2 separate regions of the Homo sapiens genome follow, and region 2 is linked to region 1. The links come from fine-mapping of genetic effects on gene expression. A gene starts in region 1. The other region holds a variant in brackets. All regions are shown on one strand. Distances are from middle to middle.

Evidence for each region. PIP is the estimated chance that this variant, and not a neighbour inherited with it, causes the effect.
Region 2: its variant is fine-mapped to the expression of METTL22 in whole blood (TOPMed, PIP 0.99).

The regions. Positions count from the first base shown.
Region 1 is chr16:8,616,653-8,624,983 of GRCh38, reverse strand. It overlaps METTL22 (methyltransferase 22, Kin17 lysine), which reads right to left and starts at 3,286. Exons shown (of 11, transcript NM_024109.4): 1 at 3,209-3,286.
Region 2 is chr16:8,642,716-8,651,046 of GRCh38, reverse strand. It overlaps METTL22 (methyltransferase 22, Kin17 lysine), which reads right to left. Exons shown (of 11, transcript NM_024109.4): 10 at 6,322-6,490; 11 at 1,393-4,939. The coding sequence ends at 4,904. Among named protein-coding and RNA genes, the nearest start is that of METTL22, 25 kb to the right of the region's middle. The variant G/A (reference allele first, on the strand shown) is at 4,898.

The sequences.
Region 1 (8,331 bases):
AGTTGTTATGGCCCTTTACTCTTTCTTTTTTATTCTAGAAGCTGTTATCAACTGTCCCCACATCATTTGTTGTTATAAAGCTTTCCTATTTTAAACAATGTTTTATTTTTAAACATTTCTTTTTACAGACAGGGGCTTGCTCTGTTGCCCAGGCTGGAGTGCAGTGGTACAATCATGGCTCACTGCAGCCTCAAACTTCACGCGATCCTCCTGCCTCAACCTCCTTCATAGTTAGGACTACAGCTATGCCACCATACTTGGCATTAAATTTTTTTTTTTTGTAGAGACAAGGGTCTCACTATGTTTCCCAGGCTGGTCTCAAATTCTTGGGCTCAAGCCATCCTCCCATATCAGCTTCCTAAAGTGCTGGGATTACAGGCGTGAGCCATCATGCCTGGCTTAAAGCTCTGCTACTGAATTTAAAAAGATGAGTGGAATTAGGCGGGTGTCGTGGCGCGCGCTGGTAGTCCCAGCTACTTGGGAGGCTGAGGTGGGAGGATCGCTTGACACCAAAAGGCAGGGGTTGCAGTGAGCTGAGAATGCGTCACTGCACTCTGCACTCCAGGCTGGGTGGCAGAGCAAGACCCTGTCTCAAAAAGAAATTAAAAAAAAAAAAAAAAGAGTGAGTGGATTTAAAGGAAAAGTAGTAAGGGAGTCACTACACTGGTGATACACAGATATGGCAAAATTATGCAGGTGACACATTAATAACTAAAACTTGGAAAACCATGGCTGAGGCAAAGTGGTCAAGAACAGGTGGGACCTCCCTCCAACCGTTTCACCTAATCAAAAAGCATCATCAAACAGCAGTAGTCTGATGGGCTTTGAAGCTGGACAGACCAGGTGGGGATCCCTGGTTTCTCACCTTCTAGCCATGTGATTTCAGGAAAATCACTTCGCCTCTCTGCATCTGTTTCTTCAGCCACAATCTCACGCAGTGTTACTGGGTGGGTAAACTGCTGAGCAGAGTCCTTGGCTCACAGTAGGTGTTAATAAAACACCAGCAACCTCCTTGTCCTGGGGTTGGTTTCAGGTATTTGACCCAAACCTGCCTGTAACCCCTGACTGCCTATAGGAGCTGTTCCTACCTGGGTAGATGTCATGAAATCTTCAGGGCCCCCACTTCTTCAACTGCAAAATGAGGTCATCATGACTCAGGCTGTCCTAATGATCCCAGTACACTGCTGGAGTTCCTACATTTAAGTGGTTGCTGTGGGGCAGCAAAAGCTGTCCCAACAAAAAAATTTTTAAGAAAAAGATGATTCCTTATTCATCTCCATGCTAGCTTTCCTACTCAACACCATAAAGCCATCAAAATGCAAGTGGGTTGTAAAGAAAGTCTGTGAATCTGGCAAATCAATGCAGAATTTCATGGTGTCATTGAAAGTGATGGAGAAATGCTGGACCTGAAGGCCAACACTCAATCAATCGGACTGGCAAAACCACACCAGATTCCAGAAGAGAAAATACAGCTTATACCTACCACTCATTTCAAAGGCAGATCAAGCTCTCTCAGGACTTAGAGATGTCCTGGGGGAAAACTGAGGACTTTCACATACAGTTTTTTTTGAAGGGGGTGGGGAAGATCCTCTCTAATATTGCTGTAAAAATCAAAAGTGAACCAAAGGATGCCATTTCTTTTTTTGCCATAGCGCATTTTTTTTTTTTTTTCTGAGACAGAGTCTCACTCTGTTGCCCAGGCTAGAGTGCAGTGGTGCCATCTCGGCTCACTACAACCTCCGCCTCCTGGGCTCAAGTGATCCTACCTCAGAGTCCCGAGTAACTGGGACTACAGGCATGCACCACAATGTCCACCTAATTTTTGTATTTTTAGTAAAGATGGGGTTTTGCCATGTTGGCCAGGCTAGTCTTGAACTCCTGACCAAGGTAGATCCATCTACCTTGGCCTCCCAAAGTGCTGGGATTATAGGTGTGAGCCACCAGGCATGGCCTATAGCGCAATTTTGTTGGAAAACTTACATCCCAGAAAAATCAATGTTCTTTGCTTTTTCCAAAAGTGAGCATAATATTACACACCAAATTTTAAGTATAGACACACACAAAAAAACTCAAATTCTTAATCTCTAGTTGAATTTTCCATTTTTAAATTCAACCCAACCAGGCTTCCCAAGAAATGTACGCTGCAATGTAAGTTCCAGATGAAGGAGATTCCCTTTAAGTGGCTTTCCCTAGAATCAGCTATCTGGGAATAAGGAGGCCCTCTTGAACCTATCTCAGGCCCTCATATACTCAGAGGAGTATATGAGACAATTACCACTTTTCGGGCTTACGACATATAGTAAACGTTCAATAAGCAACAATAGTAAATACTATCATTATAGTAATATAATAATGATTAAAGTGAATGCTGGGAAGAAAGAAAAAAGGTAACAGTTTCTCTAGTCAGGAAAAGTCTCTTTCCGGAAATGCAGGGTCTGTATGGGCTTCGGGCTCCTCTCTTTACTGGGCAGAGCTGAGAAAGGAGACCCAGGTTGCAGATGGGGACCTGCCCCACCACCTCTCCATAGGGCTGCAGGCTCATCCCTGCAGCAGGAGCTAACGTGTTCTTGGCTCTTCTAAGGCTGTGGGGGCTAGACTGAGACGCTACCAGCTTTCTTCTCCTATAGGTCCCCAGTCAGTTGTCCCAAATAAGCAGTGTGCTGGGATCACGGTGTTGAAATAACTTCCCTCCTCATCTTTCTTTCTGATAACTGCAACTCACTCAACAATCAATAATTTGGCGCGATCCCATGACGATTTAGGCCAGGAGCTGGGGAGGGCAGGGTGTGAAGGCCCAGGCTGGGGGCAGGAAAGACGTGGCCTGGCCACGGTGCGTAGAGTGGTAGTGAGGGGCTCCGGGGACGTCCCCCGTGGGGCTACTCGTTCTCTTTGTCTTGTCGCCTTCCTGACGCCACCCTTGTGGGTTAACTATTGCCCTCTCAAAAAACAGTCACAGGTCGGGCACTGCCCTCCCTTCCTAATCTAGAACCGAAGGAGAGGTGCCTGGACCCAGGATGGAAACCCAGGTGAGGACGTGGACTTCTTTCCCCAACACCCGTGTTGAGAAGGGGAAACTGACGCTAAGAGTGGGGTCGGGCCTTAGGGATCTGGGCCTCCGATCTGTGGGAGCTCGGATTTCAAAGTCAGGCTCGGCGCCAGGAGGTTCCCTGCACCCTACCCTATCCCGCCGCCTCTCCCAGGCACTTACCCGCCGCGGGGCCCAGCCTGGGATCCCACCCGACTCCCGTCTCTGTGGGACTTAGGCGGCCGCCATAACAGGCGGTCTGCGCAGGCGCGGCCCCGCCCCCGCGTGCGACCATCCGACTGCCCCGCACCGTGGCTCCACCTACCTGCCCGGGCCGCGCATGCGTCCGAGGGTTGCCGGCGGGCACCTGTAGCCTTCGCTCTGGTCGCGGGCGAGGCGTGTTTGCTGGGGGGACCCGCCTAGGTGGCTAAACTCATTCCTCTAAAAGACTTAAATAGGAGTTAAATAACTCTCCCAGCTACTAAGTGGTAAAGCCTGGATTCGAACCCGGGGTGTGGGATCAGAGCCGGTGCTATTTAACCAGCATGCTACTGTATTTATTATCACGGGTGTTACCGTCATCCATGCTCTTAGTACTCGTTTGTTTGTTTGTTTGTTTATTTGAGATGGTCTTGCTCTGTCACCCAGGCTGGAGTGCAGCGGCGCAATTTTAGCTCACTGCAGCCTTGAACTCCTGGGCTTAAGGAATCCTGTTTCAGCCTCTCTAGTAGCTGGGACTACAGTTGCGTGGCACCATTTTTTTTTTTTTTTGTACAGACTGTATCTTGTTGTGTTGCCCAGGCTGGTCTCAAACTCCTGGCTTCAAGCAGTCCTCCTGCTTCGGCCTCCTAAAGCTCATAAATTACAGGCATGAGCCACCACGCCCAGCCAGTACTTGTTATTATTAATAGGTGGTAGTGATTTCATTAGGTGGTAGTGATTTCGTTAATTCGTATGCTCATCAAGTTTCCAACACCAAGGGGGTGAGACAGAGTGGCAAACATAAGACTCCATGTTTGCTCGTTTTTTCTTGCCTGCAGAATTTCAGAAAGCCTCTGAGTCCGTGACTGAGCACAGCCCTCAGAAGAATCCCCTGAAGAGGATGAGCAGGATAGACCACAGATTCTCACGTCTCTTGCCTGAGTCACTGCATTTTTAGAAAAAGTACAGTCAATAATATTGGCCCTTTTCTCAATCTATATATTCAGTGACATCATGGAAGTCAGCCTGGCCACAATGGAGTAAGCCAGGGGATGGGCCGCAGGAAACGAGGATACATAGGTAGCCAGGGTTAGAACTTTTGTGACATTCTAAGAACTTTGGATTTTACTGTGCGTGAGATGGGGAGCTGCCAGGGATATACACCACACTGACGTGTTCACAGACATGCCCAGACACACACAGTGGTGCTCACTCTCAGACATGTCAGTGAACATACAAATATACACACAGGAACATATGTAAAGTCCACATATGTAAAATCTATATCCCTGTGTGTTCACATATACACACACGCACACACATGGCCTCAGCTGGCAACCTTTGTCTAAATTACTTTTTTTTCTCTTTTCAAAATAGAATTAAATCAACATCAATTTCATGGTTACTGATGATAAAACGTGGAGAGTTGATAGGGTGACTAAGCGACACAAATAAGAATTTTTTTTTTTTTTTTTTTTAAGAAACAGATTATGTTTCCTGAAATCCCCCAGGACAGTACACAGAGAGCCAGTTGGGTGTCTTGGGACCAGATTCTATTCATAGTTTTCTCTCTAGTTCGCTGAGGGTTCTCTTAGTTATCCCCAGAGGATGTTGAGTGGTGGGGAGGGCACTAGGAAGGCATTGTTCACACCCTTGGGAGTTTTGTCTTCAAATTTAAACCGGGGGAATGACCCTTAAAAATCAAAAGATCACATTCCTCCTCTTGTCAAACCTATAATCTTTTATAGGGGATTAGTGCCCCTACAAAAGAGGCCCCAAAGAGCTGCCTCACTTCTTCTGTCATGTGAGGACACGGCAAAAAGACAGCCATCTATGACCAAGAATTGGACACAGAATCTGCCAGTGCCTTGATTTTGGACTTTCCAGCCCCTAGAACCATGAGAAATGAATGTGTTTATCAGCCACCCCATGTATGGTATTCTGTTATAGCAGCCCAGATGGCCCCAAAAGGGTTATCATTTCTGCCACAAATTTTGAGGTGGTTTGCAACACAGTAATAGGTCACCAGGTAAGGGGAAAGAAAGCCAGCCCTTCTTGGCAGGGCTGCAAAGAGATGGTAGCTGGGGGAGTGCGGGAGGGGGCCCTCAGTTCCGGAGCCTCAGTTATAAACAAGGCACACTGCTGGCCCCTTCATCTTGTGGTTTTGTTTCATTCTCACACCCATTCCGAAGCTCAGAGAGGTGAAGTGCCTTGCTCAGTGTTACCTAGCCAGTGAGACGCAGACTCACGTTTTCTTTTCTTTTCTTTTTTCTTTTTGACAGAGTCTCCATTTGTCGACCAGGCTGGAGTGCAGTGACGCCATCTCAGCTCACTGCAACCTCTGCCTCCCTGGATCAAGCAATTCTCCTGCCTCAGTCTCCTGAGTAGCTGGGATTACAGGCGTGTGCCACCACATCCAGCTAATTTTTGTATTTTTAGTAGAGACGGGGTTTCACCATGTTGGCCAGGCTGGTCTCAAACTCCTGACCTCACGTGATCTGCCCGCCTTGGCCTCCCAAAGTGCTGGGATTACAGGCATGAGCCACCACACTTGGCCTCAGACTCACATTTTCAAAATGTCCCAGTGAGTCTGCTGGGTGGAGCCTTAGGGTTAAATGCCCTCCCTAGTGTCCCAGGCAGGTCTTTTGCTTTGAGAGTCTCCCCCAGACTTGGCGAAGCAAGGGTTAAGGTGCATGCTCACACACGCTGGAGTGTCCATCACTCCCACCACCTGGACTAATGACAAACCATGTCTGCAGCAGAGGGAAGGCGGATGAACTGCCAGATGTGTATTAAGAAACCAGCTTGCAGGAAATTGCTGTCGGGTGATTATTATTAGCTGGGTTATTCAGAACAGCCCTTTCTCCAAAGGTCGTGCATTTACCAAATGCTTGATGTGTTTTCCCAGTCAGCCCCAGAAAATTTTGTCCTCCTGGAGAGAGAGCTTGTCCTCCAGGACTGCTGAAAGTGGGTGATGATAATTCTGCCCCCGCCTCCCATCAGCATATCACGGCAGCTGCTTTGAATGCACAGCAGTCTGCGCTCTGGTTCCTGGTTCTGTGTGCAGAGGCAGGAGGTTGACCTTCAAGAGCACAGAGCTGAGTTCAAATCCCCAGCTCGGCCACTGATTAATTATATTCATCCATTCACTACCTAATTTTGAAGAGCTTTTCATATCCTTGGTACTTGGGCAATTGCTTTACTTCTATGAAACTTAATTTCCTAGTGGCTCAAATACTGATAATACCTTTCTTGGCGTGTTGTGAGAATGAGTGGCATATCACCCGTGGAGAGTTCCAGACAATAACTCCCTTCCATTTCTTGAGATAATCTGACAGTGTCTGTTATATTTTAAAGAACCCACCAGTTTTACTCACTTCACCACGTCACATTGGTAGATGAAAAACAAAAAACAAAATAAGTTACAGTGCCATTCATACTGTATAAGATCAATTATGTAAAATAAAAAAACCCTCACAATTATATGTTTTCTCAAGCTAGGCAGAATGTGGTGTATGCATCAAGGGATTATTATTCAGCTGTAAAAAGGAATAAAGCAAAATAAACAAAAAAGCTTTAAAAAATCAGCTGGGGATGTTCGTGCATGACTATGTTCCCAGTTACTTGGGAAGCAGAGGAGGGAGGATTACTTGAGCCCAGGAGGTTGAGGCCACAGTGAGTGGTGTTTGCGTCACTGTACTCCAGCCTGGGCAACAGAGAGAGACCCTGTATTAAAAAAAAAGAAAAGAAATAGGGTCATTGTAGATGCAAGTAGTTAAGGATCTTGAAATCATCCTGGATTTAGGGCAGGCCCTAAGTCCAATGACAGCTGTCCTTATCACAAGAGGAGAGGACTCAGAAAGAAGACAATGTGGAGTCAGGCGGAGAATGGGGTGAGGCATGTAAGAGCCAAGGATCGCCCAGGATTGCCGGCAGCCTCCATGCGTCAGGACAGACACGCGGAACGGATTCTCCCTCAGAGCCTCCAGAAGGACCCAGCCATGCTGCTACTTTGATTTTGGACTCGTGGCCTCCAGAACTGTGCGGGAATGCAGGTCTGTTGGTTAAAGTCACCCAGTTTTATTTAGTTAAGAGACTAATACAAGGTTTTAGCTAATTTGTGCCTACTGGTCTTTTTATTTGCATTCCCCTTGGCTCAGAAAGCCCACTCTCAGCCCAGTTTCCATCGTCACAACTGGTTCCTTCTCGTCCAACATAGCTTAAATTATTTTTATTTTTTATTTTATTTTATTTTTATTTTTTGAGACAGAGTCTCACTGTCACCCAGGCTGGAGTGCAGTGACGCGATCTTTACTCACTGCAAACTCTGCCTCCTGGATTCAAGCAATTCTCCTGCCTCAGCCTCCCGAGTAGCTGGGATTACAGGCGCCAGCAACCACGCCTGGCTAATTTTTGTATTTTTAGTAGAAACGGGGTTTTGCCATGTTGGCCACGGTGGTCTCCGACTCCTGACCTCAGGTGATCCACCTACCTTGGCCTCCCAGAGTGCTGGGATTACAGGCATGAGCCACTGTGCCCGACCCATAGCTTAAATATTATCTGCTCAGTTGGCCCTTCCCTGCCCATCCCATCATGTGTTGACCCCTACTATCTGCCCAAGTAGCTCTCCTTTACACACCCTTTAATCTTCTTTCTTATTTCATTTTTTAAAAGTAGAAATGGGGTCTCGCTGTGTTATCCAAGCTGGTCTTGAACTCCTGGGCTCAATCAATCCTCCCACCTTGGCCTCCCAAATTTCTGGGATGACAGGCATGAGCCACTGCACCTGGCAACTTATATTTTCTTTTTAGATCTGTCACTCTCTGGAATGACCTATTTGTTATTTATTTATTTATTTTGAGACAGGGTCTCTCTCTGTCACCCAGTCTGAAGTGCAGTGGTGCAATCTCGGCTCACTGCAACCTCTGCCTCCTGGTTTCAAGCGATTCTCCTGCCTCAGCCTCCTGAGTAGCTGGGATTACAGGTGCGTGCCACCATGCCCTGCTATTTTTGTATTTTTAGTAGAGACGGGGTTTCACCCCATTAGCCAGGATGGTCTTGATCTCCTGACCTCATGATCCGCCTGTCTCGACTTCCCAAAGTGC
Region 2 (8,331 bases), 26 kb before region 1:
CCATTTATTTATTTATATTATTTTTTGAGACGGAGTCTCGCTCTGTCACCCAGGCTGGAGTGCAATGGTGCAATCTTAGCTCACTGCAAACTCCACCTCTCAGGTTCCAATTCTCCTGCCTCAGCCTCCAGAGTAGCTGGAATTACAGGCACGCCACCATGCCCAGCTATTTTTTTGTATTTTTAGTAGATACGGGGTTTTGTCATGTTGGCCAGACTGGTCTTGAACTCCTGACCTCAGGTGATCCATTTGCCTTGGCCTCCCAAAGTGCCGGGATTACACGCATGAGCCACATCTGGCTTTTTTTCATTTATTGATAAATGAAATTTTGCATATTATGGGGTGCATATGAATGTGTTTTATATACACAGAATGTGTAATTATCAAGCCAGGGTATTTGAGGTATTCACCACCTTGAGAATTTATAATTTTATGTGTTGGGAACATTTCAAGTTCTCTCTTCTAGCAACTTTGAAATACACAATATATTGTTGCTAACTGTAGCCACCCTAGTCTGCTACCAAACATTAGAAGGTATTTCTTCCCTAAGTTTGTACCCATTCACCAACCTATCAAGAAGTTTTACTATTTTACAGGTGAGGAAACTCAGGTTCAGAGAGGCTAGGTCATTTGTCCAAGGTCATTGCTGTTACACAGCAGAGGCAGGATTTAAACCCTGGCTTGCTCAACTCCGGAGTTGGTGGGTTTTTTTTTCTTTAGAAATAGCGTCTCTGTCTGTAAGGCTGTGAGGGTGTAGTGCAGTGGCACAATCACAGTTCACTGCAGCCTAGAATTCCTTCGCTTAGGCGATGCTCCCGACCCAGCCTCCTGAGTAGCTGGGAGTACAGGTGCATGACACACCTGGCTAATTAAAAAAAAGTTTTTTAGAGATAGGGTCTCTGTATGTTGCCCAGGCTGATCTCAAACTCCTGTCCTCAAGTAATCCTCCTGCCTTTGCCTCCCAAAGTGCTGGGATCACAGGTATGAGCCACCACATCCAACCCAGAGTTTGTGCTCTTAACCAGGGATGACATGTTGCAACTTCACTCCTCACAGTGTGGCCCACAGACGAGCATCATCAGCATCACCCGGGAGCTTGTTAAACTGCAGCATCAGGCCACATCCAGGGCCTGAGTCAGAATCTGTATTTTGACAAGATCCCAAGTGATTCGTGTGCATACTAGTTTGAGAAGCTTTGGGGACCACAGTTTCACTAATGGTTTTTTTTTTTTAATTTCTTTTGAGACGGAGTTTCATTCTTGTTGCCCAGGGTAGAGTGCAATGGCGCAGTCTTGGCTCACTGCAACCTCCACCTCCCGGGTTGTAGAGATTCTCCTGCCTCAGCCTCCTAAGTAGCTGGGATTACAGGCGACCGCCACCACGCCCAGCTAATTTTTTTTTTTTTTTTTGTATTTTTAGTAGAGACGGGGTTTCACCATGTTGGCCAGGCTGGTCTCGAACTCCTGACCTTAGGTGATCCACCCACCTCGGCCTCCCAAAATGCTGGAATTACAGGTGTGAGCCACTGTGCCTGGCTTTGTTGGTTTTAACAGTTCTTTCCCATGCAGGCTGCAGCTGAACAGCCAAGTCCCCTCCTTGGGTCACATATTTTTCTGAAAATGTTATAAAAAAATTGAGTCCACTGGCCTGGGCTAATTACCTAGCAGAACATCCCCATGGTTTGGTGATTCTGAATATCGCTGCCAAACAAGCACTTGTAGAGGCTCAAACAAGGCCATAAAACATGGCAATGGGGGCGCGCTCCCACTCTGGGAAATGAAAATCTGACGATACTTTGAATTACAGTGGATCAAGATTAATTCCAGGCTCTACTTAGAGGAAGCTTTCAGGCCCAGTGGTTTAGACATAAAAGCAGTTTGCCCTAATGCGGCAGGTGAAAGCTGTGACAACTCTATTGCTTGGTGCCAATTACATTTATGGACTTGTACCCAGGAGTGCTAGGAAATTGTCACCATTAGTGCTGACGTACTGCCAGTTGTTGGCTCTGTCTAGTGGGGTTCTGATTTGAAGACTCATTATTAATATTCCCTGTAGTGATCTGCAATGCTGCTCCATTATGGCAAGTCTGTCAGGAACGGAGTTTGTGTAGGAATTTTAGAAAACAGCAATAGGTTGAGGGCTATGTGGTAGGCCCCAGAGCTTCTCAAACTACTGTGCACACAAATCACCCAGGGTCTCGTTGAGATGCAGATTCGGAATCACGTCCTGAGCTGAGGCTTGATACTTTTCTTCTTTTTTGGAGACAGGATCTCTCTCTGTTGCCCAGGCCAGAGTGCAATGGTGCAGTCATGGCTCACTGCAGCCTCAAATTCTTAGGCTCAAGCAATCCTCTCACCTTGCCTTCTGAGTAGTTGGGACTACAGGCGTTAGCCACTACGCCTGGCTTTTTTTTTTTTTTGAGATGGAGTTTTGCTCTTGTTGCCCAGGCTAGAGTGCAATGGCATGGTCTTGGCTCACTGCAACCTCTGCCTCCTGGGTTCAAGTGATTCTCCTGCCTCAGCCTCCCAAGTAGCTGGGATTACAGGCATGAGCCACCACACCCGGCTAATTTTGTATTTTTAGTAGAGGCAGGGTTTCACCATGTTGGCCAGGCTGGTCTTGAACTCCTGACTTTGGGTGATCCACCCGCCTCGGCCTCCCAAAGTGCTGGGATGACAGGCATGAGCCACCATGCCCGGCACCTCGCCTGGCTTTTTAATTTTTGAGATGTCTGGCTCTGTTGCCCAGGCTGGAGGGCAGTGTTGCGATCTTGGCTCACTGCAACCTTCGCCTCCCAGGTTCAAGCGATTCTCCTGCCTCGGCCTCCCAAGTAGCTGGGACTGCAGGCGCAAACCACCATGCCAGACTAATTGGCTGTTTAATTTTTAATAGAGATGGGGTCTTGCTTTGTTGTCCAGGCTGGTTGAACTCCTGGCCTTAATTGATCCTCCTGCCTTGGCCTCCCAAAGTATCGGGATTGCAGGAGTGAGCCAACATGCTCAGCCTGATGTTGCATTTCTAACCAGCATCCACGTGATGCCACAGATGCTGCTGCTGCTCCAGCGGGAATGTGGGAAAAGCACAGGCTCAGGAGTCAGATGGACATGGGTGGACATGGGCTCTAAACCTGACTCTGCCCTTGGTTGCTGTGTGATGTTGGGCAAGTTGCTGAACCTCTCTGAATTTTGGATTTCTCATGTGCAAAATAGGGATCACTTCTGCCTTTTAGGTTCTTTGAAGATTTATAATAACGTACATGCATAGGTTTTCTTCTTGCTCCCAGAGGGGCAGGGTGAGGTCACTCTCCTGCATGCTCTCACTACAGGTTCAGCTGAGACCGTTTTTCTTCTCTAAAGTACTTGGCTTTCTTCTTCCAAGTCAGGATTTCTCCGCCTCGGCGCTACTCACATTTTGGGCTGGATCATTTTGTGTTGTGGGGGATGCTCCGTGATTACCGCATTATAGAACGTTCAGCAGCATCTCTGGCCTCACCCACTGGATACTGGTGGCACCCGTCTCCCCTACTTGTGACCACCGAAAATGTCTCCAGGCACTGCCAAATGTTCCTGGAGGCAAAATCACTCACAAATAGGAAATAATGACCTAATTAGTAACTTACATTAGCAATTCATTCAACAATATGTGTTGAGCATCTACTGTTTGCCAGACCATACAGCAGGGATGTAGTGATATTTAAGACAAACAAGGTCCCTGACCTCATGGAGACTTTTTCCTTTTTGGACCTCAGTCTTCTCCGCTGTAATGTGGGTATCACAAGGCTGCGGACCTCCTAAATTTGTTGGGAAGATGAAGTTAGACTTGCAAGTGCCTGGCCCCTGGCATGAGGGATTAGCCAATGCCAGGGGTATGATGGGCCTAGGGATGGAACCTGGGAGCTTGGGGAGAAGCGAGTGTGGGCAGGGACAGTGCATGGAGAAGCCAGGAAACCTGAGCTGCAAGGGAGGCGGAAAGGGGCCATGAAAGGCCCTGGTGCAAAGTGTGCGGCAGCAGCAAGGCAGGGGAAAGGGGCTGCAGGGAGGGCCAAGGGTAGCAGGAAGATGGGACCAAAACTGGAGAGAAGGAGAGAGACAGTGGGACATAGAGGATGACAGGAAGGGGTGGAGATGGGAGGAGAGAGGCACAGATGGAGAAGATAAAAAACCAGACAGACAGACATGTACACACGTGATAAGACAGAGAGACCAAGGGGCGGAGGGAAAATGAGTCCAGGCGGAAGGGAACACCTCTGAGGAAGATCACTGCACAAACCCTGGTCAGCTGCACATGACCCCAAAGAGTGGCTCTTAGGTTTATTCCAAACGTACCTGATTTGGGTGATAAAGAGTTAAAATTAAATACAAAGGCCAATGCCAGTCCATTCCTGGCGCCAGCTCCTGCCTCTTCCTTCTCATGGGGCCCTCACCAGAGTGATGGGGTGGAGCATACCCAACCCTGGGAGGAAATGAGGCTTTTGTGCCGAGCGGCAATATGATGGCAATACTGGCAGTGGTAGTCAACCCATCTGTAAACAGCTGACAGAGGGCAGTACAAGAATCCACCTCACAGCCAGGGCCGCAACCGCAAGTAAAGCACACAGCTGAAATGACTGACGTGGGTGGAACTGAGCTGAGAAGGAACGTGGCTCGGCTTGACCCTGGAGCACACATCACAACCATGAGAAACAGGCAACTAAAGTGACCTCCAGCCCACAGCAACAACCTTCTCTGGCTACAACTGGGAGGCAGGGACAGACCCCAGAAAACCATCTTGGGTCATCTAAGGTACGTGTAACCATATTTTTAAAATGACAAAATCTCAAGCATGTTGCTTTGGTGAGCTTCTGATTTTACTAGAAATACACTCTAAGAACAGTCGAGACGCCGCGCCTTGTGGAGGC[G/A]ATGGGTCATGTTACTGGTTCTGCGATGATCTTCCAGAGCTCCTGCAGCAAACAGAGAAAAGAACAGGTTTCTGAAGTGCACATACAAGAGCATCACAATTTCATTAAGGAAAGTGATTCACCAAGGAGAGTAGTTAGACAACACGTCAGCCACGGAGCAGGCGAGCTGGGGCAGGAGCGGACGGGCGGCTTCCTCCTTTCTTTGTTGCTCTGGGCTGTTCTATTTTACTGTGGCAGAGAGGCTGGATGGATGAAGTCCCAGCATTAACGGAAGGTGCATCAGAGGATGTCAAACAATCAGAAGAGACCAGAATAGCAGTGAGTTGCCGTATCTCTCCATTTTGGGGGAGATCTTTATAAACAATTTTATTTTAGAGACAGGATCTCATTCTGTTGCCCAGTCTGGAGTGCAGTGGCACCATCACAGCTTGCTGCAGCCTTGAACTTCTGGGCTCAAGCAATCCTCCCACCTCAGCTTCCAGAGTAGCTGGGACCACAGGTGTGCACCACCATGCATGGCTAATTTTTTTTCTTGATTTTTGTCGAGATAGGGTCTGTGATGCCCAGGCTGGTCTCGAACTCCTAGCTTCAAGCAACCCTCCGACCATGGCCTCCCAGAGTGCTGGGATTACAGGTGGGAGCCACCGTACCTGGCCTTTTTGGGACGTCTTAGGCATCATGTATTGGGGCTGCTGACTTGTAAGAAATGTGTGTTCTTGGTCATGTGACGCTACTCTTAATGCTGCCCAGAAGTGGCAGAGCAATAAATACAAGATCCTCCTCGCACACAAAACCACACGAATTCCATGCTGCCCTCCCTCAGGACGCGAGACAGAGTGCAAGGGCGGCAGCTCCTCGTGACTCCCTCTTCCTCCCTTTTTCCTTAGAACTAGGCCCGGGTCTCCACAGACATAGAGAAAGGGAGGCCACAGCCAAAAGGCAAACAGAACAAAAGAAGTTAATTCTCAATCTTTGGACTCCAGTTAATAGAAAAGCCAGTTCAGTCCGAGAGGGGCTGGTATCCTTCCACAGTGAAGATGTGAGCAGCGGCCACCACAGCGGGGCGCCTGCACCAAGATCTGCAACCCACAAACTTCCCTCCACTGACTTCCTGTTCCCCAAACAACCTCTGCCTCGGTCTTGCCTCCTCTGGAGTCTGAACTGTCCAACGGGGGGAATATGTGCTATAAAGTAAAAGACAAGGTTCGCCTGTAGGCCCGTCTCCAGACATGGTGGCTGCTAAGAACAGGATGTAGCTCCCCCAACAGGTTCCACTACAGATGGTGCCAGGCACGCAGGCTTCACCCCCTGCAGGACTAGGGTGGAGCCTGTGCTTGGAGGGCTTGCTTCATCACCTCTTTGCCCTGGAGTCACCCGCTTCACAGTAAAGCAACCAACGGCCCTGCTTCGGGGCCTGGACCTACCAGTTGCTGGAGGCGCTCGTAAACCAGGAGCTGTGGGAAGGAGGCCTCCACGGGCTCCACCACGAAGCGCAGCTTGCCATCTGCGAGCTGCTCCAGCGCGTGCAGGCAGGAGCGGAAGTGATCGTAGGCTTCACATGTGACGTCCAAGTGTCTCAATGTGAAGTTGAGCCTGCAAACCAGCCAGTCGGACGCACAAACTGCCATCATCAATGGGAAGGGTTTTGCTGTTTCTGCCCACCTTGCTTTCCTATCCCTCACTGATCTCATATCCCCTGGACGGGCTTTTACTGAGCGCCTGTCTCATGCTGAGTGTGTGAGTGCAATTCCTTCCTACATCTGCACGACAGCCCAGGAGGTGGAAGTGGATAGCACTTTACAGATGTGGAAACAGGCTCAGAAAGCTCAGGTCACGTGCCCACAATGACACTGCTGGAAAGATCAAGACAGTCCTGCAGATCAACACTTGAGGACGCCCTCCAGGTCCTGCCTGCACCCAGCACAGAATCTGGTGCCTGGAGCTGCGCATAACTATCTGAGAAATGAATGAATGAGAGGCAGTGGCAGGGGGCGGTGCAGAGGACTCCGGGAGCACAGAGAACAGAGAGAAAACTGCTGGGAAGCTGGGGTCTGAGAGATTTCAGAGAGTGAGCACCTTCAGAAACAGGTCTCCCAACCCTGCCACTTGCCTTTCAAAACCTTAGTCTACAAGATGGTTTCACTTGAAATTAAAGCTCTTTGCCTTTTTCCCTTTTCTTTCCAAATTTTTTTATCAAGAAAAATTCCAGACATGCAACAGGAGTAAGAACAGTCTATGCTGGGCGTGGTGGCTCCCACCTGTAATCTCAGTACTGTGGGAGGCCGAGGAGGGCAGATCACCTGAGGTCAGGAGTTTGAGACCAGCCTGGACGACATGGTGAAACCCCGTTTCTACTAAAAATACAAAAATTAGCCAGGTGTGGTGACGCATGCCTGTAATCCCAGCTACTTGGGAGGCTGAGACAGGAGAATGGTGTGAACCCGGGAGGTGGCGCTTGTGCTGAGCCGAGATCGCACCATCACACTCCAGCCTGGGCTGACAGGGCAAGACTCTGCCTCAAAAAAACAAAAAAAACAAAACTGTCTAATGAACCCATTACCAGCTTCAGCCACTGTCCACTTCCAGCCACTCTGCCACCTTGGCTCTTCCCGGGGCCCCCTGCCCTCACTGAGTTATTAAAAAGCAAATGCCAGACACCAACCCATTTCCTCTGTGAAGCTGGAAATGTCAGTGTGTGTCTCAAGAAGATGAAGACCTCTTCAACTAAAGTTTAACAATCACCCTTTAACATCAAATATTCAGTATTCAACTTTTCCCAACTGTCCTGATGTTTTTCCTTTACAGTTTATGAAATCAGGATCCAAATGAGGTCTGTACATTGCTATTGCTCAGTGTGTGCCTCAAAGCAAGCCCTCGGTATTATTGGTATAAGTAACACTGCAATAAATATGCAAGTACATACAGCTTTGTACACAACCCTGAGTGTGAATTTCCAGATGCTGAATTGCTGGGTGAAGAAGTCTGTTTCGTTTTACAGCTTTTGCTGTGGATTCCGAACGATCTTCAGAAAAGCTGTGGACTACTGTTAAGTATTACAGGAGAATGTGTGTAGCTATCACAAGGTGGGCACTCAATAAATGGAACCTAACATTTCAGGATATTCTAGTGGAAATGTCTGGGTGAGGCTGTTGGGTGAGGAGCTGTCCGATTCAGCAAGAGAAAGAGACCTGGGGGAGCTGAAGAGACAGACGGCACCACAGAGAGAACATTCAGGAAGAGAAGCTCTCAACAGTGTGTGCTGGCCAAGCGTTGAGGTTCCAGTACAGTCTGCATTCAAGTCCTTGTCTATCACTAACTAGCCGTGCCCTGGCCAAGGCCCCTGATGCTTCCCAGCCTTCCTCTCTTCATCAGTCAAGTGGGACAGCAGCGCCTGCACACAGGGCTAGGATGCAGATTCAGTGCAGTAACGTACA